Regions from separate parts of the Homo sapiens genome. Here region 2 is linked to region 1. The links come from fine-mapping of genetic effects on gene expression. A gene starts in region 1. The other region holds a variant in brackets. All regions are shown on one strand. Distances are from middle to middle.

Region 1 (8,000 bases):
TCCAAATTGCACACAGTCTAGATTTCTATCACTGCTGGAATCTTTCTGATCTTTGGCAAATAAAACCCAATCACAGCATTCACAGTTAAATTACAAAACACTTGATTAAAAATTTGTTTCAACTGTATTCTGTATCTTTAACCTGGATTGGATACTTTTATTCCAAACCTGTCTTCAATGCTGTGTAACAGCTACAAAGCATTTTATGGGTAGTCTCGTTAAAGAAAAAAGGGGAAAAATGCCTGGCACAATGCCAGCAATTTGGGAGGTCAAAGTGGGCACATTACCTGAGGTCAGGAGTTCAAGATCAGCCTGGCCAACATGGCGAAACTGCCTCTACTAAAAAGACAAAAATTAGCTAGGTGTGGTGGCACGCGCCTATAGACCCAGCTACACAGGAGGCTGAGGCAGGAGAGTTGCTTGAACCCTGGGGGCAGAGGTTGCAGTGGGCCAAGATCACACCACTGCACTCCAGCCTGGGCAACAGAGACTCCGTCTCAAAACAAACCCCCCAAAAACAAAAAAACAAATTTCTGAGGCTATAATTTTGGATAGATACATTAAATTATGGAAGTCAGTGAAAAAAGTGTGCTAAAATCAGATACAGGTTGAGTGTCCCTTATCCGAATGCCTGGGACCAGAAGTGTTTTGGATTTTGAATTTTTTCAGATTTTTGAAATATCTGCATACATATGAGATATGCTGGGAATGGGACTCAAGTCTAAACTAGAAATTCATTTATGTTTCATATATACCTTAAGATATGTAGCCTAAAGGTAATTTTATACACTATTTTTACACGTAGTCATTAGAGACTAGGACACATTAGGTCTGTGCCTTAGCCTTTCAGTCTGTTCCTCCATCTCAAATACTTTTAGATTTGGGAACATTTCGAATTTTCGCATTAGGGATGTGCAACCTGTATTACTAAACATCATTAAAATAAAACCACACGTTTTAAAAGAGCAAATCTCTTACCAGTTGAAATTCTCGACGCCGGTCATAGGCATTCTGTATGCCGCTGTCTGCCCATAATGCTCTTATAGCAGGAAGATATTGTAAGAAAACCCTTGTTTCCACCATTCCTTGGGCTGCCATGGGGGCCCGGGTATCAAACGACATCATCTTATCTCCATGTTGTTGGTTTGAGTTGTCTCCCCAGGGAATATGAAGCTTCTCTCGAGCATCAACCAGCACCCTCATACCTTTGTTTAAAAAGAAGAAAAAAAATGTATGGAGAGGAGTCATTACATATTATCATAAGTTTTTATTCCAGTATTATTTCCTTATACTTCTGAATTAACCTAGACAAACCTTCTTCAAAAATGAAGACCAACATCGAAAACAAATGTAACTTCTCAGAGGTTAAAAAAAATAACAGTTGCTCACTGTCTTAAAATTAGAGCCTTGAAAAGCAAATACTATTAGCACAATTCCTCTCTCTGAAGGATTTTTAACATGTTCCAATTTATAAAATAACTTCTAGGATAGAAGGTAGTCAAAAAACAATCTAACTCAAGAAAGAAAAAGAAGTTATGCTGCACAGACCAACAATGTCCAAGCTCAGAAGAAAACAGACACAACCAAGGTTTTATGAGCCTAAAAGATGTTCATTTATGAAACACTAAGAACCAACTACTATAGCTCCATGTTCTGTTTGTTGCTTCGGCACCCTAACCCAACATTGAGTCTTCTAGCAACACATTCAAAATTTAAAAACTTCTTCCAGCCCAAGTTTCAATCCAGTTTAAGTTACAGGATGGCCTTCAATTTCCCTAAAAGGGAGGAAGATCAACTGCAAAATAATACAAAGTCGGACTCCAACTCACAGAGGTTAGTTGAAACTCATTTTTCCTATCACTGATCTATTACTTTTATTAAGTTTGATCAATCTGAACAGTCACTTGGCTATTAGGAAGTCATCTGAATAACTGAAAAACGGGTGGGGTTTTTTTGTTTTTGTTTTTTAATAGAGACGAGGTCTGGCTATGTAGCCCAGCTGGTCTGGAACTCCTGGGCTCAAGCCATCCTCCCACTTTGGCCTCCCAAAGTGCTGGGATTGCAGGAGTGAGCCACCACGCCCAGCCTGAGAAACTGTTCTACTGTCAAATTTCATGTCAACTTGAAAAAACTAGATTCCTGATGACTTACATCATCTCATAATCAATGCTCAACGTAGATCACACTTACAACTCAGTGTACATTAAGAACGAGGTGTTTACCAGGCTCACAGTCAGTTAACATGTTGATGCTATTCATTAACATAATTCCTTAAGTTCAGCTGCATCAGGTTACAAAGGTACCTTCAATTAAGGACTGTCAAGGCAGAGTCTGCAGCCTTGAAAGAGACCTTAATTAGTTTTGAGCTAAACATTACAGCAGGATAAATACAACTGTTCTTTATAGTTTAACTGCAGAGGTACTAGGGCTAGAGCTGGCTGTGGTCTAGTGATTCTCTCTAATTCATTACTCCATAATGCCTGGCTCTTCAGGCAGTTTTCCTTTACCCAAACGCTGGAAGCTCGGGAGGCGGTTGGCGGGGAGGGGGCGGGGGGGTGACATGCAGAAGTCCCTTATGTACTTCCTGAACAAAAATCCCACTTAAAAAGACCTGCAATCTGTAGCAAACTCCTAAACTGCTCCCCAGATAAAATAAAATCCAGATGCACCTGAGTTACCAGGCGCTGCACCTAAATTTTGCCAAAATGCCTTTTCTATAGAACATACTTGACACGCAGAAACGAGTGTTAATTATCTTTCAAATGACAAAATAAAAACCATCTTTTCGATTTCTTTGAATGCCCAGAAATAAACAACTTGTTTATTTTTCACTTAAGAACAAAGTTTAATTTTAAAACTACTGTCAATAAAGAGCCGAGCCAATTATCTAACTCAACACTCATTCATTGTCTCCATCTGTACAGGATCCACATGACTTTTAGGCCAGTCTTCTTACTACTACATTTCATCTAAATAGAAGCAGTGGTACTCCCTTCCTGCCAGCCCCCAGTTACTTAGCGAAAAGGAGAGTGGAACGTGTTGCACAGAAATCACACGCAAACATCCTACCTGACCGTGACACTGGGGCGAAAAAGCACAGATGCTACATTTTCATGCTAACTGTATGGGTCCACTCTCTCCTGATTCCAGTACAGTCAACCTGACACTCCTCAAGTTTCATATTCTCGCCCAAAAGGAGGCTGTCACCCTACGCCCTTGACAAGAAGTCTCGGGCAAAAAGTTCCCTTATTGCGACGGTTCCAGAACTCGCTTGCTTAGGAGACGGCCAAGGAAGCAGGGAGTTGGGAGCGCATGCGACCCCATGTGACTCGGGTCACCCAGCCAGGGTAGCGAGGTTCGGCCCACATCGCCCGAGCAGGGGATGGGGGTGAAGCGGCTAGGGCTGCTATTGGTGTTCCTGCCTCATCCGCAGCGGGGAGGACAGGAGAGGTCTGCCCACACCCCGAGGCAGCACCCAGCTCGCCCCACTTCCCTCTCGCAGGGGGAGAGACCAGGACGCGGTGGGGGGTGGGGGAATGGCCGTGACGCCCACCGGGGAGACAAGCGGGAGAGCAGGGCGACCCCGAGCATCCTCTCGCCCTGGGGCGCGAGGGCACCCCGGGCGGGCAGGGCCAGTTGCCGGGGCGCGCCCCCTTCCCGCCAGCCCGCCCGCCGGGCCCGTTCCTTCGCCAGCGACACAGCGGACCAGGGCGGTGCCCCGCCCCGCACCCGCCGCCGCCCCAGCCCCCCTGCCCTTAACCCCCGGCCCCCATTCCCGGCCCGGCACCTTTGATCACGTTGCTGTAGATGGTGGGGCGGAACTCCTCGCGCGCGCGCTGGTCGAAGTCCTGCCCGTGGATGATCCGCATCTGCTTCAGGAAGGTGGACTTGCCGCTCTCGCCCGCGCCCAGCAGCAGGATCTTCACCAGCCGCTTCACATAGGTCTTTTCCCGAGACAGGCATTTGTCGATCTCCTTGGACTTGCGTTGCTGCTCGGCCTCGCCACTCGTCAGCAGGCAGCCGGGGAAGCACACGGACAGCACGGACCGCGACGGCAGGAAGTCCGCCATCTTGCCGCCGCCGCCGCCGCCTCGGCGGGCCCCTCCGGCTCCCTCCACCTCCTCCTCCGGCGGCGGGCGGCTCCGGCACCGAGGCTCGAGGGCGGGGAGCGCGGCGGCGGCCCGAGCGCGCCCAGGGAGGGAGGGAACCAGCGAACTGACTCGCAGGGCGGGCCGGGCAGGGCGGGCCAGGACAGCGGGGGAGGGAGGGAGGGAAGGAGGGCGGGCCCGGCCCCGGAGGGGCGGTGGCCCCGGAGCGTGCGCGCTCCCGCTGCCTCCCGGAGGCGCGCTCGCACGCCGCGGCCGCTTCTCCGCCTCCCGCCCTGGGCGGCGAGTCACGAGCTCGATGTGTCGCTCGGGTGCCCGCGCCCGCAGCCGCGGCCGGGCGCGCGGGGAGGGCTGAGGAACCGCGGTCACGTGGGCCAGGCTGGGGAGCCCGACTTTCTGTTTCCCTTTCATGGCCTGAGCCCACTTGTGGGCAGAAGGGCTCCTTCCCCAAGGCCGGGAGGCCGGAGACCAGGTCCCGGACGCGGTTCTTTGGGCTCCCACTTAGCCTCCCTTTCTCCCGCGTTGCGCGCCCGCTGCCCGCTGTCACCGCCCACCCGACCCATTTCGAGGCCACGGACTCGAAAGTTATTCGAACAGAACAGCCGGCGTGAGCCTGGCAGGCCTTTGGTGCATTTTCTTTATTTCATTTTATTTTTTCTCTTTTGAGACGGAGTCTCACCCTGTCGCCCAGGCTGGAGTGCATTGGCTCGATCTCGACTCACTGCAACCTCCGCCTCCCAGGTTCAAGCCATCCTTCCGCCTCAGCCTCCCGAGTAGCTGGGAGTACAGGCGTGTGCCATCATACCCGGCTAAATTTTTTGTATTTATTTTTAGATACAGGGGCTCCCCCCTATGTTGCCCAGGCTGGTCTCGAACTCCTGAGCTCAAGCGATCCTCTAGCCTCGGCCTCCCACAGTGCGGGGATTCCAGACAGAGCCACCAGGCCCAGGCCTGGTGTGTTTTCTTAAAGTGACTCCCTTGACCTTCTAGTCTCCGAATCCCAGAACGGTAACCAGACGTCGTCCACCCCCACTTCCAGCTCTTTCTGGCATTTTCAGACCCCTACCAGGGCTCTCTGTGAGGGGAAAGAACTGGAGTTGATGTTCACTTGAGACGTGCTACCAGGGGCATTTAATGGCTCACTCGTGCATTCCACCTGGGCTGTGATGTGACTTCAGGGACGCTTGGCCGCGCCGGAATTAGCGAGTGGCAGCAGGAGGGTGAGGTCATGGTGAAAATCCCCTACACCGGACACTGTGATGTAGGCTCTTCCCAACAAGGAAGCAGATACACAAACACAACGAGGAATGGGAGCACGCAAATTTTAGCTTTCCTGCCAGATTACAGAGGATATGACCCGTCCAGGGACTTTTTTTCTGTCCTAACAGCAGATTCAGGCCAGGACACCTGAAAGGAGGCCAGGAGACAAGCCACAAGTGACAGCTGTGGGTTGGCAGAGAAACTGCTTAACCGGGACCCCCGAGAGCCGACCTCTTCATTCTTAGTATTTAGTTTCAAGTGGAAAAAGCCACTTTGGTCTGTCCCTGTTTTGGGCAATGCAACGTAGCTTTGGGCTCCTGTGGCTCAGAAACTTCGTATGTATAAGGGAGCGGAGGTAAGAGGTCAGCATTCCAAGAAACTCCCGAACAGGTTTAAATTTTAAAATCGGTACTAATCAGTTACTCCCTGGGGTTGGGTTAATGACCGAGAAGCCTCGACTCAGTAGATTGGCTGCAGTAAACAATGCCTGTAGTAGGATTATCTCCTGTGGCTCTGGCAAGCCCAGAGGGTGGACAACCTACAATATACAAGTAGAGTAGGCTCACCTCCAATATCTGTGGATTGATAAGAGTCAGAATCACTGAGCAGTGCTGTCAGGCAAAATATATGGTAAAAGCCTGCCCTGGATGGAGAATTTTTCCATCATCTCATCTAGTGTTTGGGAGGCCCTGTTCTCTAACCATGCAAGGACTCGCCTCTCCCAGGATTGGGGCATAGAACCTGTCCCCGAGCACTGTTTCTGCATTGACCCCAGGTGCTAATCTGAACTCCAACAAAGAGGAGAGAAACTTGTAAGTTAGGTAGTTAACATCTTTTTTCAGAAGTGTGTGTAATATAATGGAAAACCAAGAATGCCTAGGAGGCAGGAAGGTATTCCTGCCCAGCCAGTTCATGTCGTGACATGCAGAGCAGCAGAGAAAGCTGTTTAAAGCCCTGCGTGTAAGCTTGCCTTGGAACAAACTTGGCTCACATCAAGTCTGGCTGTTCTAGTCAGTGTAGTTTTTAAAAAGAGACCTCTTTGACCTGAAAGTCAAATGAAGGAAGAAGAAGAAGAAGGAGGAAGGAGGAAGGAAGAAAGAAAGAAAAAGAAGGCCGGGCACAGTAGCTCATGCCTGTAATCCCAGCACTTTGGGAGGCTGATGCAGGCAGATGACTTGAGCCCAGGAGTTCGAGACCAGCCTGGCCAACATGGCGAAACTTCATCTCTACTAAAAATACAAAAATTAGTGGGGAGTGGTGGTGGGCGCTTGTAGTCCCAGCTACTCGGGAGGCTGAGGCAGGAGAATTGCTTGAACGTGGGAGGCGGAGGTTGCAGTGAGCCGAGATCAGGCCACTGCACTCCAGCATGGGTGACAGAGTGAGACTCTCTGTCTCAAAAAAAAAAAAAAAGAAAAAGAATGAATGAATGAAAGAAAGAAAAAGAGACCTCTTTGGGTCCAACCTAGGGGTTTGGCTGCAGCTGTCCAGCTTCTTCTAACTGGTGATCAAGACACCTTGTAAATTGTAAACATAAAAATGAGTTAGAGACTTGGTGGTTTCTCAAAGAGGTGAACATAGAATTGCCATATGACCCAGTAATTTTATCCTGGGTATACCCCCCAAAATACTAAAAAGAATTGAAAACAGTGTTCAAACAAAAACTTGTATACCCACGTTCATGGCAGCACCATTTATGGTAGCCAAGAGATTAGCCGGCTGCAGTGGTTCACGCCTGTAATCCAAACACTTAAGCCAGGAGTTTAAGAGCAGCCTGGGCAACATGGTGAAACCCTGTCTACAAAAAAATATATAAAAAGTAGGGGAAGGCGGTGTGCACCTGTGGTCCTAGCTACTCAGAAGGCTGAGGTGGGAAAATCGCTTGAGTCCAGGAAGCGGAGGCTGCAGTGAGCCAAAATTGCACCACTGCACTTCAGCCTGGGGAACAGAGCCAGACCCTGTCTCAAAAAAAAAAAAAAAAAAATAGCCAGATGTGGTGGCACATAGCTGTAGTTCTAGCTACTCAGGAGGCTGAGGCAGGAAGATTGCTTAAATGCAGGAGCTCAAGGCTACAGTGAGCTATGATCATGCCACTGAACTCTAAGTCTGTGTGACAGAGTGAGACCCTATCTCTAAAAAACAAGACACAAAGAGGGGAACAACAGACACTGGGACCTACTTGAGGGTGGAAGGCAGGAGGAGGGAGAGGATTAAAAAAAAAATACCTGGTCGGGTGCAGTGGTTCACACCTGTAATCCCAGCACTTTTCGGAGGCCGAGGCGGGCGGATCACCTGAGGTCAGGAGTTTGAGACCAGCCTGGCCAATATGATGAAACCCCATCTCTACTAAAAATACCAAAAATTAGGCGGGCATGGTGGCACGCGCCTGTAATCCCAGCTCCTCAGGAGGCTGAGACAGGAGAATTGTTTGAACCTGGGAGGCGGAGGTTGCAGTGAGCCGAGATCACGCCATTGCACTCTAGCCTGGGCAGCAAGAGCGAAACTCCGTCTCAAAAACCAAAACAAAACGAAACAAAACAAAAAACATATCGCATACTATACTTATTACCTGAGTGACTAAATAATCTGTACACCAAACTCGAGATGAGCAGTTTACCTGTATAACAAACCTGCATA
Region 2 (16,752 bases), 90 kb before region 1:
ATAAAACTTTGGGGAGGGTGGGGGAGGAAATGACACAGTGTCTGTCAAAAACAGGCATAATCTAAAACAAGGTGGATATAGCAAATCTCTGCCACTGCTTGAGAAGAACTTTGAGCTTGTGGCAGTTTTGCAGACTTACATGACTTCAGCACTTTACAACGTATTTTTACTATGAATGTTCAATACAATTTAATATTTATAACTGATTTCAGAGGGATCTGCTCCATGTCTATTCTGTTACCTGCATGAAAAGAGAATGCATGCCAATTTCAGTATGTCAATAATCAAGGTTTTAAATGTTTGGAAGAAAATAAAAACAAGATTGCTGATTTGTTCTGTATTAGTGACATTCTGGTACTTCTAGATTTGCAATACATTTATGGCTTTTTTATTTAAAGATACTGATTTTCTTCTGTTATAAGATTTTTTTATTGACTCTCACAGCATTCAGTATTTGATGCAATTAAAGTTATAAAAACTCACCAAAGATTCACTCCAAATAAATAATTTTTTAACGTTTATCTTCTGCAAAACCTTTTAACTCTACTAGAGACACATAAAGTTTCCCAAGAAGTGTCTACTGAACTTTTTATTTATTTATATTTACTAGTATTTTTTTTTGAGATGGAGTTTCACTCTTGTTGCCCAGACTGGAGTGCAATGGCACAATCTCAGCTCACTGCAGCCTCCCAGGTTCAAGTGATTCTCCTGCCTGAGCCTCCCGAGTAGCTGGGATTACAGGTGCCCGCCACCACGCCTGGCTAATTTTGTGTATTTTTAGTAGAGATGGGGTTTCACCATGTTGGCCAGGCTGGCCTCAAACTCCTGACCTCAGGTGATCCACCTGCCTCGGCCTCTCAAAGTGCTCGGATTACAGGTGTGAGCCATCGTGTGTGGCCTGAACTTTTAAATCATTTTTTCTGGTCATTGAAAGCAGGACAATTTTATTTTATGTTGAGTTTTTCATGCAAATTACAGCACCTTAGAAAAAGACTAAATAATTCAAGGGAAATATTAAGTAATGAATAACAGGAGAGCGAAATAAAAATTAAACAATATAATCAAATGAAGAAGCATGTTTTCATCTAAGAATTAAGAATGAAAGCAGCGATGGTATTTAATTATTAATGAAAAATACATGAATGAAATGATATCATGGTAGCCAGAGTAAGCCTATCAAAAGTCATAACGGCAAATAGTTAAAGACTACAACCAGTTACAGAATCGTTCCAAGAACTGTTGCAACCTGTAAGTAAACAGCACAGACTCTACATGCCAGGGTTTGGCAAACTTTTTCTGTAAAGGTCCAGATAGTAAATATTTAAAGCTTTGCAGGCCATGAGGCCTCTGTCTAGTCAACTCTGCCATTGAGGGTCAAAAGCAGCCACAGACAATATATAAATGAATGAATGTGGCAATGTTTCAATGGAATTTTATTTATGGATACTGAAATGTGAATTTCACAAGATTTTCATACAGGAAATATATATTTTTTCAATCACATAAAAATGTTAAACACACACACACACACACACACACACAATTAGCTCTCAAGCTGAAAAAAAAAAAATTCTAGCTCCTTCACCACATATCTGTAACACTGGCACAGATCAGTACCACCAGAAGCAAAGCTCTGAAAACTAACAGTCCTGACTCATGGGAAAGGATTCATTGTGGTCAAAGTAATTCTTAGATCATAACTGCCCCAAAATAGGAAAGATCAAGCAGCTAACACTTTTTCGTTGTTGTTGTTTTGAGACAGAGTCTTGCTCTGTCACCCCGGCTGGAGTGCAGTGGCACGATCTTGGCTCACTGCAACCTCCACCTCCCGAGTTCAAGCAATTCTCCTGCCTCAGCCTCCCAAGTAGCTGGGATTACAGGCATGCACCACCACACCCAGCTAATTTTTGTATTTTTAGTGGAGACAGGATTTTGCCATGTTGGGCAGGCTGGTCTTGAACTCCTGACCTCAAGTGATCTGCCCACCATGGCCTTCCAAAGTGCTGTGATTACAGGTGTGAGCCACCGTGCTTGGCATTATAGCTAACGTATTTGTTAATTATGTTTTCTTTTTTTTTCCTTTTTTTTTTTCTGAGATGGAGTTTCACTCTTGTTGTCCAGGCTGGAGTGCAGTGGTGCGATCTTGGCTCACTGCAACCTCCACCTCCACCACACCAGGCTGTTAATTATGTTTTCATTTCTCCTGATTAAAAAGATTCTGCTTTAAGATTGTTGACTTCAAGAAGTTTCAGTATAAACCTTATGTAGACTTTCTCTCCCCAAAACTAAAATTATTCTAGTTATAAAAATGAGTTGGGCCGGGCGCAGTGGCTCACGCCTATAATTCCAGCTCTTTGGGAGGCCGAGGCGGGTGGATCGCCTGAGGTCGGGAGTTCAATACCAGCCTGACCAACATGGAAAAACCCCGTCTCTACTAAAAATACAAAATTAGGCGGGCGTGGTGGCACATGCCTATAATCCCAGCTACTCGGGAGGCTGAGGCAGGAGAATTGCTTGAACCCGGGAGACGGAGGTTGCAGTGAGCCGAGATTGCGCCATTGCACTCCAGCCTGGGCAACAAGAGCGAAACTCCGTCTCAAAAAAAGAATTAAGATCATGTACTCTTTTAAGACCTATGTATCCGTAACTAATACAAAATGTGTCCAAACCTTTTAACAAAGTTATACATTTTATACTCCAATAGCATGTAATGTAGCTTTTGAGCATTTATTTGCCTTTCCCTTTGCTTAATACCTGGTGATAAAATAGAAAATGGATTCTATGTCAGCATTCTTGTGGCACAGATTCAAATCACCAGGTGGTATTTATTAGATTTAGATTTCCATACTCCAATTCAACTATTGTAAATTAGAAATCATCATGATCCTTCAGCTGGGCATGGTGGCTCACACCTGTAATCCCACCCAGCACTTTGAGAGGCCGAGGTGGGTGGATCACTTGAGGTCAGGAGTTCGAGACCAGCCCAGCCAACATGGTGAAATCCTGTCTCTACTAAAAATACAAAAATTAGCCGGGCATGTTGGTGCACGCCTGTAATCCCAGCTACTTGGGAGGGTGAGGCAGAAGAATCACTTGAACCTGGGAGGTGGAGGTTGCAGTGAGTCAAGATCGCGCCACTGCACCCAAGCCTGGGCAACAGAGTGAGACTCCATCTCAAAAATAATAATAATAATAAAAAATAAGAAATCATGATCCTTATTTTCACAAGTTTGCAAATATGGGGCTCACAAGGAACTAGAGTTTAGAAACCATTGCCTTTAAATCTTTAAACGGTGGCCAGGTGTGGTGGCTCATCCCTATAATCCCAGCACTTCAGGAAGCCAAGGTGAGTGAATTGCTTGAGCTCAGGAGTTCAAGACCAGCCTGGGCCACATGGTGAAACCAAAATTAGCCAGGTGTGGTGGCTCATGCCTGTGGTCCCAGCTACTCGAGAGGCTGAGGTGGGAAGATCACTTGAGCCCAGGGGGCAGAGGTTGCAATGAGTCCAGATGGCACCACTGCACACAGCCTTGGCAAAGAGTGAGAACCTGTCTCAAAAAAGAAAAATTGTAATGGTTATGCACATTACTTAAAATGACCTATTTAAGGAATTCAGACATGTTACATGCAAAAATGATCACTGCTATAAATATACATTGCATTGAGAAAAGAGAAGCTGCCCTTGTTTTCAGATTTGTGTTTATATTGCATGTGTCCTAAGTGAGGGCGATCGTAGCGTACAGCTGGGCCAGCCGCCGTTGCATAAGTAAGGAAACTGGGTCCCCCTAGTGTTCAGTTCTCATAATGACTCTCGAAAGGTGCAGAACAAGAAAAGTGGCAAGAGAACTTACAACTTCGCTATCCGTGTAACAACTCACCCAAATCAAAATTACTTCAATGACTATCCGTTTCCTACAGGGAAAGTTAGACGGGAAACCTGATGCCCAGAACATTTCCCCAAATATTATTGAGAAAATACATATTGTGGCCATGTATTTGTGTCATTTATATGCCTTTCCAGCAACTCAAGAACAAGCACGCTAACTTCCCTAACAACTTATACACCCTGGAATTCAACCAAAACTTTAAGTACCTTCTCTGCATCGACACCTCCCATTCTTAGTCTCAACTTTGTCCCTGAGCTCCTGATTTACATCTGCCTGCATGGCAGGGCATGGATATAAACTAAGCATCTTCAACTTAAAATGTCCTCAGCAGAACTCTGGATCTTCCTCCTCAAACCCACTCCTCCACACATCCAATCGGCTCTCCTTTCTAAATATATCCAGGAGCTGACTGCTTCTGCCAACTGCATCAGGACCCTTGATCCAAGCCAATATCATCTTAGCTGGATTATTACAGTAGTCTTCTAGCTGGCCTGCCTGCTTCCACTCTTGCAACATGCCACCCCATCTTAATTTTCCATACAGTAGCCAGAGTAATCTTCTTACAGCACAAGTCTGACATAAATCCTTGGCAATGAGCCCTGCGTGAACTGCCCGATGGTATTTCTTTTCCCTCTGCTCCTGTTATACTAGCCCCACTGGCTTTTTTTTTTTTTTTTTTGAGATAGAGTCTCGCTCTGTTGCCCAGGCTGGAGTGCAGTGGCATGATCTCGGCTCACTGCAACCTCTGCCTCCCAAGTTCAAGCAATTCTCCTGCCTCAGCCTCCCAAGTAGCTGGGACTACAGGCACATGCCACCACGCCCGGCTAATTTTTTGTATTTTTAATAGAGACGGGGTTTCACTATGTTAGCCAGGATGGTTTCTATCTCCTGACCTCATGATCCGCCCGCCTTGGCCTCCCAAAGTGTTGGGATTACAGGCGTGAGCCACCACGCCCAGCCCCCCCACTTTTTTTTTTTTTTTGAGATGGAGTTTCACTCTTGTTGCCCAGGCTGGAGTGCAAAGGCACAATCTTGGCTCACTGCAACTTCTACCTCTGGGTTCAAGTGATTCTCCTGCCTCAGCCTCCCGAGTATAGCTGAGATTACAGGTGCCCACCACCATGCCTGGCTAATTTTTTTTTTTTTTTTTGTATTTTTAGTAGAGATGGGGTTTTGCCATGTTAGCCATGATGGTCTCAATCTCCTGAACTGGTGATCCGCCTGCCTCGGTCTCCCGAAGTGCTGAGATTACAGGTGTGAGCCACGACACCCAGCCTCTCTTATTGTTTCTGGAATTGTTCTTCTTGTTGCAAGCTTCAGGCTTTGGCATTTGTGGTTTCCTTTGCTTGGTACTCCCTTGCCTGAGATGTATATGCAGTGTGACCCTTCAATTTGATCACTTCCAAATGCTACCTCCCTAGGGAGGCATTCCTGTCTATCCTATTCAAAATGGTACTTGTTTCTATTTGTTTACTTTGACATTAGGTTATAACAGCATCCACTTTGGGAGGCTAAGGTGGGCAGACTGCTTGAGCCCAGGAGTTTGAGACCAGCCTGGTCAACATGGTAAAACTCCTCTCTACAAAAAGTACAAAAATTAGCCAGGTGCGGTGGCACGTGCCTGTACTCCCAGCTACTTGGGAAGCTGAGGCGGGAGGACCACTTGAGCCCAGGAGGCAGAGGATATAGTGAGCCAAGATCACACCACTGCACTCTAGCCTGGATGACAGAGCAAAACTCTGTCTCAAAAAAAATTAAAAATAAAAATAAAATAAAGCATCTGTTTACTCCTTGACTCTCTGTCTCATCCACTAGTGTATTAGGGTAGGAGTTCTTTGTTCACTGCTGTATTCCCAAGGCTTTGAGCAGGGCCTGGCACCCAGTAGGTGGTGCTCCATGAATATTGTTGAATGAAAAATACATGAATGAATGAGTTATAGACTTTTTTCCCCTTTAGTTACACAAGAGAAGAAAAAGATATCTATTGACAGTTACAGCTCAAGAGAGTCTTTGCTGCTATGAAACAGCTGGATAACCACAGGACACTGAAAGCACTGTGCCGAGAACCCACCGGTTCAGCATCTGAGGATGGATGGATCTCAGACTGCCCAGCAGTAGTGTACTACATGGGTGGGTCAGTTGTAAAGAAGAAAAAACTGATCCATGAGCAGACACTAAAGAAAACAGTGGGATGAAATCAATACTGGGTTAAGTATGGCAGTCTGTGAGTTTGAACATATTGCCCCAATAGATTTTGTTTTAACTATTTTCCAGTAGACATTTTTTTTCATAATGCTTTCTTTTAATGCCTCAACTAGTCGCAAGAGCTTTACTAAATATTGCAACTCTTGGCGGGGCACGGTGGCTCACGTCAGTAATCCCAGCACTTTGGGAGACCAAGGCAGGCAGATTGCTTGAGCTCAGGAGTTCCAGACCAGCCTGGACAATGTGGAAAAAATCCCATCTCTAAAAATTAAAAATAAAAAAAATACACCGGGCATGGTGGTGCACACCTGTAATCCCAGCTACTTGGGAGGCTGAGGTGGGAGGACCACTTGACTATGGGAGGTGGAGGCTCCAGTGAGCCGTGATCATGCCACTGCACTCCAGCCTGGGCAACAGAGCGAGACCCTATTTCATAAATAAATAAATATCGCACCTCTCTTTTTTTGGTACTAAGGCAGAACTGTACATAGACTGATTTCTCCAACTTTGAGCAACCCCAGATGGCTCTACTTGAACAGAAAAGAAATTGAAAGTTTAATCGTGTATAATCCCTTGTAAACAACCTGGGGGAAAAATGGTTAGGTTCTCGCCGGTGATATTTTACTTCAATGAGGTCATGTAGCACAGTGAAAATAACGAATAACTCAGCATTAGGGAGAATTGGGATCTGATCCCATTTTTGCCATTGGTTACATGACACGCAAGTTTACTCGGCTGCTGCAGGCTTGTGTCCTCATGCATGAAATGGACTAAACAATCTCCACATTATTAATGCTTTACGACTCCGCTTTCCAAAAATGGAAATGCATTTGAAGACAATACCAGGCCCTTGAAAATGAAGACGGGAGGGTAAAAAACAAGCTGCAACAGAGAACAGTATCAAGCTTTTAAAGAAACAAGTTAACACCGAAGCCAGAGGCCTTTAATGTAGACATTAAACGGTGTCTACATACACCCTTTCAGCTTGAATGTCAGCACCGGCTGTACTGACAGAAGATTTACATGACCTTTTCCTGAAATAAGCCTTCCTCTCCTAGTAACTCAATACCACGGGTACATTTTTCCAGGTACACTAGAGTTGGGTACTGCTCTAGAGCTGCACTGTCCAATACAGTAGCCACAAGCCACATGGGGCTGTTGAGCACTTGAAAATGTGGCCAGTTGGAAGTAAGACGTACTGCAAGTGTAACATACATACAGGAATTTGAAGACGGTAAAAAAAAAAAGGATATAAAATATTCAGCATTGATATTGATTGAAATAATATTTTGGATGCACTGGATTAAATAGAATATACTATTAAAATTAACTCCACCTGCTTCTTTATGCATTTGCTAATACGACTACTAGAAACATTAAGCTTACATAGGTGGCTTGTATTATATTTCTATTGGACGGTGCCATTCTAGATATCCGAATCTACAAAGTGACTGAGATTCAAACTCTTCAATGAAGCACTTTTTAAATGCTCTACTTGAGAATTAATTCCACTCACTGCTCTGCTGCCGTCGCGGTCCTGACTTTCCAAGGCTGTGCCCAGAGCGCGGCACACGTGGCTCTCACACAGGCAGGCCTGCACGGCACGCAGCAGTGGAGGAGGTTACCCTGGGTCGCCGACGCCAGGGGAAGCCAAGCGACCGACCCCACACTTCTGAGCCCCGCCGGGGAAGTCCCCGGGCGCGGAAACAGGTGGTGCGCCGGCGGTTCGCAGCTGCTGTGCCCGCTGGCCTGGGCGCAGCCGGGGACAGCGACGCGTTTCCTGCCCGGGAAGGGCCCGAGCGCAGGGCCGGCTATAGCGGTCCCGCAGCTGCCTGCTTCGATTTTAGCACTGCTGCTCCCTAGAGGGAGCAACGCGGCCCTCTGTCCCTCGTAGGGCTTGAAATGTAAATTATTCATATCAGGGGAATGTGTGCTTCAAAAAGCAAGCTGGACAAGAACCGACGGGTAATCCTCGCCAAATTCTTCTATTTAACCCTCACCATTAAAAGTCTGAGGCCTGAAAAATCTCTTGACTGGAGAGATATTAACTCCACAGGTAAACGGGATCAGGATCTACGACATAAATGAATCAAATTCACTGATTTCTAAGATTATTTAGACAGTAGAAAATTATTAATCCTTTTTATTAGTTCAATACTTCATTCAGCATTTGCAGAGCAAAATCTGCTTGGATTTATTTAGTGAAAATTATCTTCTAAAACTACAAAGATTTAACCACAGTACATAAAATTTAGTTGCAGTAGGCAAATTATATTTTTAAGCTGAACCCTAAGAAATTGTCCAAAAATATGTACAATAGTTATGCACAGCACTTATGATTGCTGAATAAATGCATCATATAAAATTTAGTTCAGTTTTTAGCAAGAGTGAACGATTTCTTAGATGATTTTTCTCCTGGTCTCATAGTGCAGAGTATTCACAAATGGACCTTATATCTTCTCCAGACAACCGTCATCCCCAATTTATTCACCTAGGCAAATCTTAGTTCAAAAGAGTTTGTGAGAAAGGCTGACCTACAGGACTAAAACCGTGCTTACATTGTAGGAAAATAAAAGAAAATGTAATCGAATGGACAATAATTTTTAAAGCACATTATTCAAGGAGGAATAAGCCCTGTAACAGAATCCATAAAACACCATGCTCCATC[A/G]GTCTCTTTTTGCTAACAGAATGACCAAGTATTCTCTCCAATTAATTTTAATAGCAAACCACCATTTCCTAAAATGACTTAAATGGGTTCAATCAAGTAGGAGAATGAATCCAAGGGAAACCACTGACTAGGGGTATAAAATGTGCCTTACATCATATTGCATACATCAAACAATCAAAGAATTTAGGCTTCAAATTACAAGAAAAAAAAATACCTTTAAGTCTTACCCTCAAGGTAAGATAGGAAAGTGGGAAATGCTGTCTGCTCACTGGCATTCCATAAAATATTCACTGTAATTTCTGGATTTCCAAGACACATCTATCTAGCAGAGGTGGTTTGTCAAGTCTGAGCTTTTCCACCTGTCCACCCCTGTAGCAATGGGGCTGATGTTCACAACCTGCAGACCATCATCAGCATTCATGGCACCCCGACAGATAACCCCATTAAACTCTCTCCCTGACTCAGGTAAACACTTCACAATGTGAGAAGGTGAGAAAGACATTATTACTGAAATAAACCTGAAAGCTGCTCTAAGTCTATAGAGAAAGTGTAACACTCACAAATATAAATACCATTACACACTATTTGTAAGATCCCTCATAAATGACTATGTTATAGCTGAGACCTGCAACGGAACTCCCACCACCAAATGTTGTGGTAGTGTAAGGACCATTGTTATTTTCACTTGCAAATATTCCTGAGAGGTCGTATTTTAAGCTGCTAAAAACTAAAACAGGAATAAGGTGACAACCAGCAAAAGAAAAAAAATGAGCTAATGCACTCGAGAGAGTAAGGAAGGCTCACGGAAGAGGAGGGCTGTGGTGATCAGAGTCCACGGACGTCCAAAAATGTGACTTGGCTGGCCCTAACAGAGGGGAGCAGCTCTTCTAAAAACAAAATCACCCCCTGGAAATTATGTTGGTTGGTTCCTTGGGGCATCTACAGTTCTTTTTCAAGTTATTTACTTGCTCATTACCGCCAGTCCCAGCTTTCTTGGGAGACCTAAACATATTTGGGGAATGGAAATAATGTGCTTGCTGCCACAGACCAGGCCAGTAAGATGAGAAGATAAAGAGTTTCTAGAGTTTTTATTATTCAAAATGAGTTTCATTTCAATTCAGGTACTTGAAAGAAGGTTCTAGTCTGTTACTTTGACACAGCACAAGATCAATAGTTTATTCTGATGAAGTATTCCACCCAAATGAAAGCATAACATGCAAGTAGTCATTTATTTCAATCACTCCTATTTGAAGGTCCTTATTTTTGGAGAACAGTCAGGCATTTTATTATCCACTCTTTCCATTCCTTAAAGGCTTCCTTCCACGGGTTTCAGTAAATTCCCATTATCCTCACGACTGTGTTCTGGAGTTGCTCCAGGTGTGCCAGAAGATTCATCATCAATCCACCTCACCAGTGCCTGGAAAAGCATTGAAAGATGCGCACTTCAACAAACCACAGCAAAATACCATCAGGCAAGAGAGAAGCATTGGCTTCTAGATCATAGGGTGACATATTACCCCATGAAGACGCTGCATTTGATAATGATGCTGTGAATATGAATAATGCTAATGATATACTGAGTGAAATGGCACGTACCAAATACACACAGAATTACAAATGATGTCAAAAGTACGCACTGAAAAAAGATGAAAAAGAAATACACTCATTCTTATACTTTGTTTCTAGCATGATAGGATATTTTTTCTCAACTTGCTGAATATTCTACAAGGCATTATATTAATTTGACATGTATGTATATACATATATAAGTGTCCACACAGGCATGGGTAGACATATGTATGTGAAAACACATGTGTAGACATTTCTGTGCAGTCACCTGAATGCAGTCATACCCATGAGTAAACACATGAATGTATATTGATGTTTGTGGGCAAGTGTGGGCACACACACACATACTGAGATTAGGTACTTTCCTTCTTCCTTTTTAAAGAAAATCACTTTTTTCCTCCTAATGAACATCATACCTCTGTCCCATATTTGGAAAGATAAATCCTGTCCTCACACTTATAGGGTTTAAAAAATGAACTTTGCCACACATATCAATATTTATTCAGTTTTGCAAAGTCAAGCTCTCTTGCCCTAAATGGAAGAGAAGCAGAAAATTTCTTCCACTATTTCTCATTGAACTGTAAGCATAAATCACTCTAAGGCAAGCTGAAGTTTTTAAGAAGGGCATTTCTTCGCATGTTTTTAAACCACAGCTTCCTGCTTATCTTTACACTAATTTCCTCTGATAAATTATAACTCTAGAGAAGGATATAATAGATACATCAGTTTGCTACTCAGATAACCACTTCCCCCTCTTTACACTATCCATCCCTCAACTTACTTTATATCTTTCTACAATGCTGAAGCCAATAACAGCACACTGCAACTTGTGCAAACAGATAGGGCAAAGGTTTAGAGGGCGCCGGTCAGCTTCTTCCAAGTGGAAGAAGCCCCAGATTTCCCTATCAAAATCCTTTGCTGCTATCCACCATGCCTTGTCTTGTAAAACTTAATGGGCTGGAGGTCAAATACTTGAGAAACTGAAGTTTCAGAGTCTTTTCCCACAAAAGAAGTCTTTTTCTGAAAGTAGCAAGTACTCCAAATCAAGTACTCAAAAAGGAACCACAAAAACTAATCACATGGGTCAGGCATGGTGGCTCATGCCTGCAATCCCAGCACTTTGGGAGGCCAAGGTGGGCGGATCACCTGAGGTCAGGAGTTCAAGACCAGCCTGGCTAACATGGTGAAATCCTGTCTCTACAAAAATACAAAAATTTGCCAGGCATGATGGTAGGCGCCTATAATCCCAGCTACTCAGGAGGTTGAGGCAGGAAAATGGCTTGAACCCGGGAGGCGGAGTTGCAGTGAGCCGAGATCCCGCCATTGCACTCCAGCCTGGCGACAGAGCGAGACTCCATCTCAATAAATAAATAAATAAATAAACAAATAAAATAAAATAAATCACATCAACAATAGGCAGTCATGATTTCACTCTTTAAGGACACGCTAAACAGATCTGTTACACGTGTGCCTGGAGGGGTTGCTGGCCTTCCCTCACGCAGCACTGACTGAGGACAACTGCCCTGATGTCTTGAAGCCCATGCTTTAAACCACGGCTTTAGACAGAATAACCTCGTCCCCTTCCCCACCCCCACCCCCTTTTTAAAGAGCAGCTCAACTCTATTCTGTCACTAGTGTCTGGTGACCAGAATAAATACCCTTGTAACTGACTTCCTGTGTTACATTTAGAGTTATATCAACCATCTCTGCAAGCACAGAGAACACGGTTTGCTACGTAACTCACCCTACAGGGTACTGCTTCACAATTCGACTTGTTTACATGATCACTTTTATTTATGTCTCTCGTTCAGTTTTTATTTTAAAGTAATAAATTTTTAAAGAAAATAACCCATGGTAGGTTTGTTCAATCTAATTTGATTCAAAAACAACTTCCTCACCTCCCTTTACCCAGAAAATGTGGACTGATATTCGAAAATTAGGGAAAATAGCATTCTAGAAGTTAAGAAAACACTAAATCTATTCATGTATCACAAGTAACCCCCTCTGGCCAATCAAGTGTGAGCATATTTCACTACAGTAATACTTTCAGCAAGGACATTTCTTTCTTCCAATAATCCTACAAATAGAAGATTATTTTCTTTCGTAGTCAATGCTTCTCAATTTAAAAATATGAATCTTTGTAAACTTGGAGAAAACAAGACCACTGTGTTAAGATATTGTCACTGTCTAATCCTGCCACTTTCCTATGTAAATCTTTCATGTCATGTAATATTTAAGAAACTTACAAAAAAAAGAATTAAAGTAAAAACAGTTTGGGGAAATGTTTCCTGACCTCCTCAAATACATAAGATAAGTTAGCTAGTAATATCTAGATAAACGAACATATGGTTTGAAAATTATTTTTTTAGCTGGGTGTGGTGACTCACACCTTTTATCAAAGCACTTTGGGAGGCTGAGGTGGGAGGCTCGCTTGAGCCCAGGAATTCAAGATGAGCTTGAGCAACACAGGGAGATCCCATCTCGACAAAAAAAATAAAATAAAATAGCTGGGTGTGGTGGTCCTGTGGTCCCAGCTACTCAGGAGGCTGAGGCGAGGCAGGAGGATCCCTTCAGCCCAGGAGGCTGAGGTTGCAGTGACCCATGATCAGCCTGGGTGATAGAGGGAGACCCTGTATCAAAAGAAAAATGAAAGGTAGATAAAATTAATTTTTAATGTTTCCGTCTCTATCAGGTTAATAATAAGAGAGAAAACTTATGATAAAAAGCTACCTCACACCACCAAAATCAGTAAGAGAGTAGTGACCCACGTCTCCAAGACTGCATGTTGGTAGGGCCATGGGGGGCCACAAGTAAACCTCACATAAATGGAGAATAAAGAATAAACGAGTAAGTGGGAAGAGGCTCTATAGCCCTACAGCCCCCACCTCTAGTAGAAACATTTGTCCCAAAAAGCTTACCACCCCACACAAATCCTAAGGCTAATGTAACATCCAGACAGACCATAAACTCTCAGGATAGTCCCTGTACTTACTCCCCATCCCCAGAACACTAATGAACCACTCCCCTTAGGGGGCCTTTTCCCTTTCAAGTCTGTCTTGGATTATTGGGGATGAAGTTAGAGAAGTAAGAGCAAAAATGAAGGGGAGGGGAGAAGTAGAGAGATGACAAAAAAAGGTTAAAAATATAACCTGTTTCGTGAACCTTTCCCATCCCCAATATTACCATGCAGAGTTCCTAATGAGTCAATGTTTACTATGTATCTCAAATCAAAGATGGAAGTTTTTACTTTTTAAATTAAAAAACAAACAAAAAACAAATGTCGTATGATGAGAAAGAAGCAACACTTAGTCTATGGCTATCCTAACTGTGCAAGATGACTATGAAAAGAATTGAAAAACAATTAGCAAGATTTTCACATCCATTAATGATAGCTCAAACTGTAATTGGCTTAATTCACCTTGCTACTGAATTACTGACGTTTACTAGCTGTTATGCTGAATGCCTATATATGTGCCAGGCCTATATATGCTTTTTTTTTTTTGAGACACGGTCTCAATTTATTGCCCAGGCTGGAGTACAGTGGTGCGATCACGGCTCACTGCAGCCTCAACCTCCTGGGCTCAAGCAATCCTCTCGCCTCAGCCTCCTGCATAGCTAGGACTACAGGTGTGTGCCACCATGCCCAGCTAATTTAGTTTTTTTAATTTTTATTTTTTGTAGACATGTAGTCTCACTATGTTGTCCAGGCTTATCCACACTTTTTATGTACAGGCACTTTTATGTAAATTATCTCCAAATGACTCCATGATGTGGGTATTGTTACCTTTAAGGTCCTGTAGGTAGTGAGTGGCCAACCAGAACCTAGATTATCACAATCTACCAACAGCACACTTCCCATTATGGCATAATGTCTCAACTGAAAATACTATAGTTTTAAATATCAATATGATTCTTGGTTGGAATTTTTTTCCCTCTTTTAACATCTTCAAATATTCTCAAGTTGAAGAAGCTTCTAACAACAATGCCAAAAACGGAATACCATCTGTCAAAGAGGCCTGTCCAAAGACAAAATTCCACAAGTCTCTTGGGTAAAGATCAATCATTGTTATTCCCACAACACAGAAGGCATCTTCAGGTTTCTTCTTTTTCAAGAACTTCAGGATGTCCCCTATTTAAGAAGAAATACATAAATGTATGAGTGTATATTATATACATATGCTTCCTTTACTCAGTTCAAATTGCAAAGTTGTGTAATTCACCTGCATGAATTTGTAGGTTTTGTGTGTTCTCATTGACTCTAAAGGAACACCTTGTTGTAGAAACAGGAACTGGTTCTAGCAGTTTTACTCTCAAGCGATAGAAATATGCTTTACAGTAGCCCGTGAGCCATTTAATATATTCTTCACTGATAATTCTGGTGCTTCATAGAGATCCTATAATATGGAAGAACATTTAAAAACAGACTTTAAGACGATTATTCAGTGTTTACCCAGTCTATGAGTAAGAGGATTCAAATTAGAAACAAAACCAACTCTAAATTTTCAATACACCTTTAACATTCATCGGTGTTGATATGAATTAAAAAAAAATGTTCTAGGTCTGTTTGGCTACAAAACTTGTACCATTGCAATGAATATCAAAAATGATCCTAAAATGGCCCATCTGAATCAGACCAATAGCCCGGACTATTCCTGACAACAGAACCATTGCAAAACCGAACCAAAACTAGCACATTACCAGTATTTACCAATGGACCGTATATAAATACTGCGTTTGTCTGGAGAGGGTATCTTTCTGTAAGGATGACTGAAGAACTGTTCAAAGTCTTGGGGGGCCTCAGGGTGGGAGGTGATCCAATCTGATGGAGAATGCAAGGTCCAAAGAGATCACTGGCTGGCTGGAATGCTTCATTCATTAAACGCTGTTCCCCAGCATCTACTTTCTCATACTGTGACACAAGCACTGGATTCTTTGAGATGACAGCTATTTTTAGTGTCTGTTCGGAATACCGTACTATTTGCATCTAACAAAAAAATACAAGCAGTCAAATATAAAAATACATATCCATATTGGGGACTTTACCTATTCTCCATATACAGCTCTGATTTCTCCCTAGAGTGAAATGACTGACTGCTAATGCTTTAGAGTGGTCACACTTAGAGTGGTTTCCTCATGTCCAATCAATTTCTTGGGGACCTAAGAAATTACAAAGACAATCATGAAATCCATTCCTCCATCTCATATGGAACCTGCTCCCATTACAAAAACTAGTGGTGGCCAGGCGTGGTGGCTCATGCCTGTAATTTCAGCACTTTGGGATAGGAGGACTGCTTGAGGCCAGGAGTTTGAGAACAGCTTGGGCAACATGGTGAGACCCTGTCTCTACAAAAAACTTAAAAATTCCCTGGGCATAGTGGTGCACACCTGTGGTCCTAGCTACCAGGGAGGCTGAGGTTGCAGTGAGCCATGATCGTGCCACTGCACTCCAGCCTGGGCAAGAGTCCAAAACAAACAAAAAAATCTCATGGTGACCATAGGAGCAGGACCTCACACCCAATTTCCTTCTTTTGGGGAATAATATTGGCCTGGCATGGTGGCTCATGCTTATAATCCCAGCACTTTGGGAAGCCAAGGCAGAAGGATTACTTGAGCCTAGGAGTTTGAGATCAGCCTGGGCATCATGGCAAAACCCCATATCTACAAAAAAATTAGCCGGGCATGGTGGTGTGCACTTGTAGTCCCAGCTACTTGGGAGGCTAAGGTGGGAGGATCATCTGAGCCCAGGAGGTCGAGGCTGCAGTGGGCTGTGATCGTGCCACTGCACTCCAGCCTGGGCAACAGAGACTTTGTCTCAAAAAATCATATTATGAATTAACTCATTAGTGCCACATGAAAAATACTCCTCGTTTCTAGTGTGACTCAAAGATCTTCAACATCAAATAAAAACAAAACTAATGTAAGCCCTATCATTTCTGCAATTTAACTGCAGGCTGAGAAGCTACGGCTTAGTCACATCACATTAGGGAAGACATCAGATGACTAATCAAAAGCCAGACTCACAATGACAGGTTTCTTCCATTCACATCGTGTTCCTATGTAGAGTTTTCATCCTTCCTCTTGAAAAGGGTCAGATGTTCCACCACGAGACTTTTTGAATTACACAAGGAAAAACCTGAACATCTCTGTCTGGATCATCTCTGTCATATTTTCTAATTATCTAGATTTTGCCAGTTTAATGATAGACAACTGATGGGAAAACTTAAGCTAATGTCTGTTCTGATTGAACCTCTGAATTCTGGGGTTGAAGAGGCTGGCTGAAATTCCAGATCAAATGTCTCTGTACTCAAAGCTCTGATAAGAGCATAAGCTCATCCTCACTCCTACACAACTGGGCTGAAATCTGACTTCTACAGGACAAAATATAAAACCAGATGTACCTTCCAGTGGTCTACCTACCTTGAT

Evidence for each region. PIP is the estimated chance that this variant, and not a neighbour inherited with it, causes the effect.
Region 2: its variant is fine-mapped to the expression of GNA13 in whole blood (INTERVAL, PIP above 0.99).

What each region holds. Positions count from the first base shown.
Region 1 is chr17:65,052,524-65,060,523 of GRCh38, forward strand. It overlaps GNA13 (G protein subunit alpha 13), which reads right to left and starts at 4,217. Exons shown (of 4, transcript NM_006572.6): 1 at 3,788-4,217; 2 at 979-1,205. The coding sequence starts at 4,070. RefSeq lists silencers at 3,455-3,714, 3,995-4,504.
Region 2 is chr17:64,958,205-64,974,956 of GRCh38, forward strand. LOC107985000 (a long non-coding RNA gene) reads right to left here and starts at 4,560. Exons shown (of 3, transcript XR_001752973.3): 1 at 1-4,560. It also overlaps the pseudogene AMZ2P1. RefSeq lists an enhancer at 7,600-7,649 and silencers at 7,869-8,032, 16,207-16,501. The variant A/G (reference allele first, on the strand shown) is at 8,761.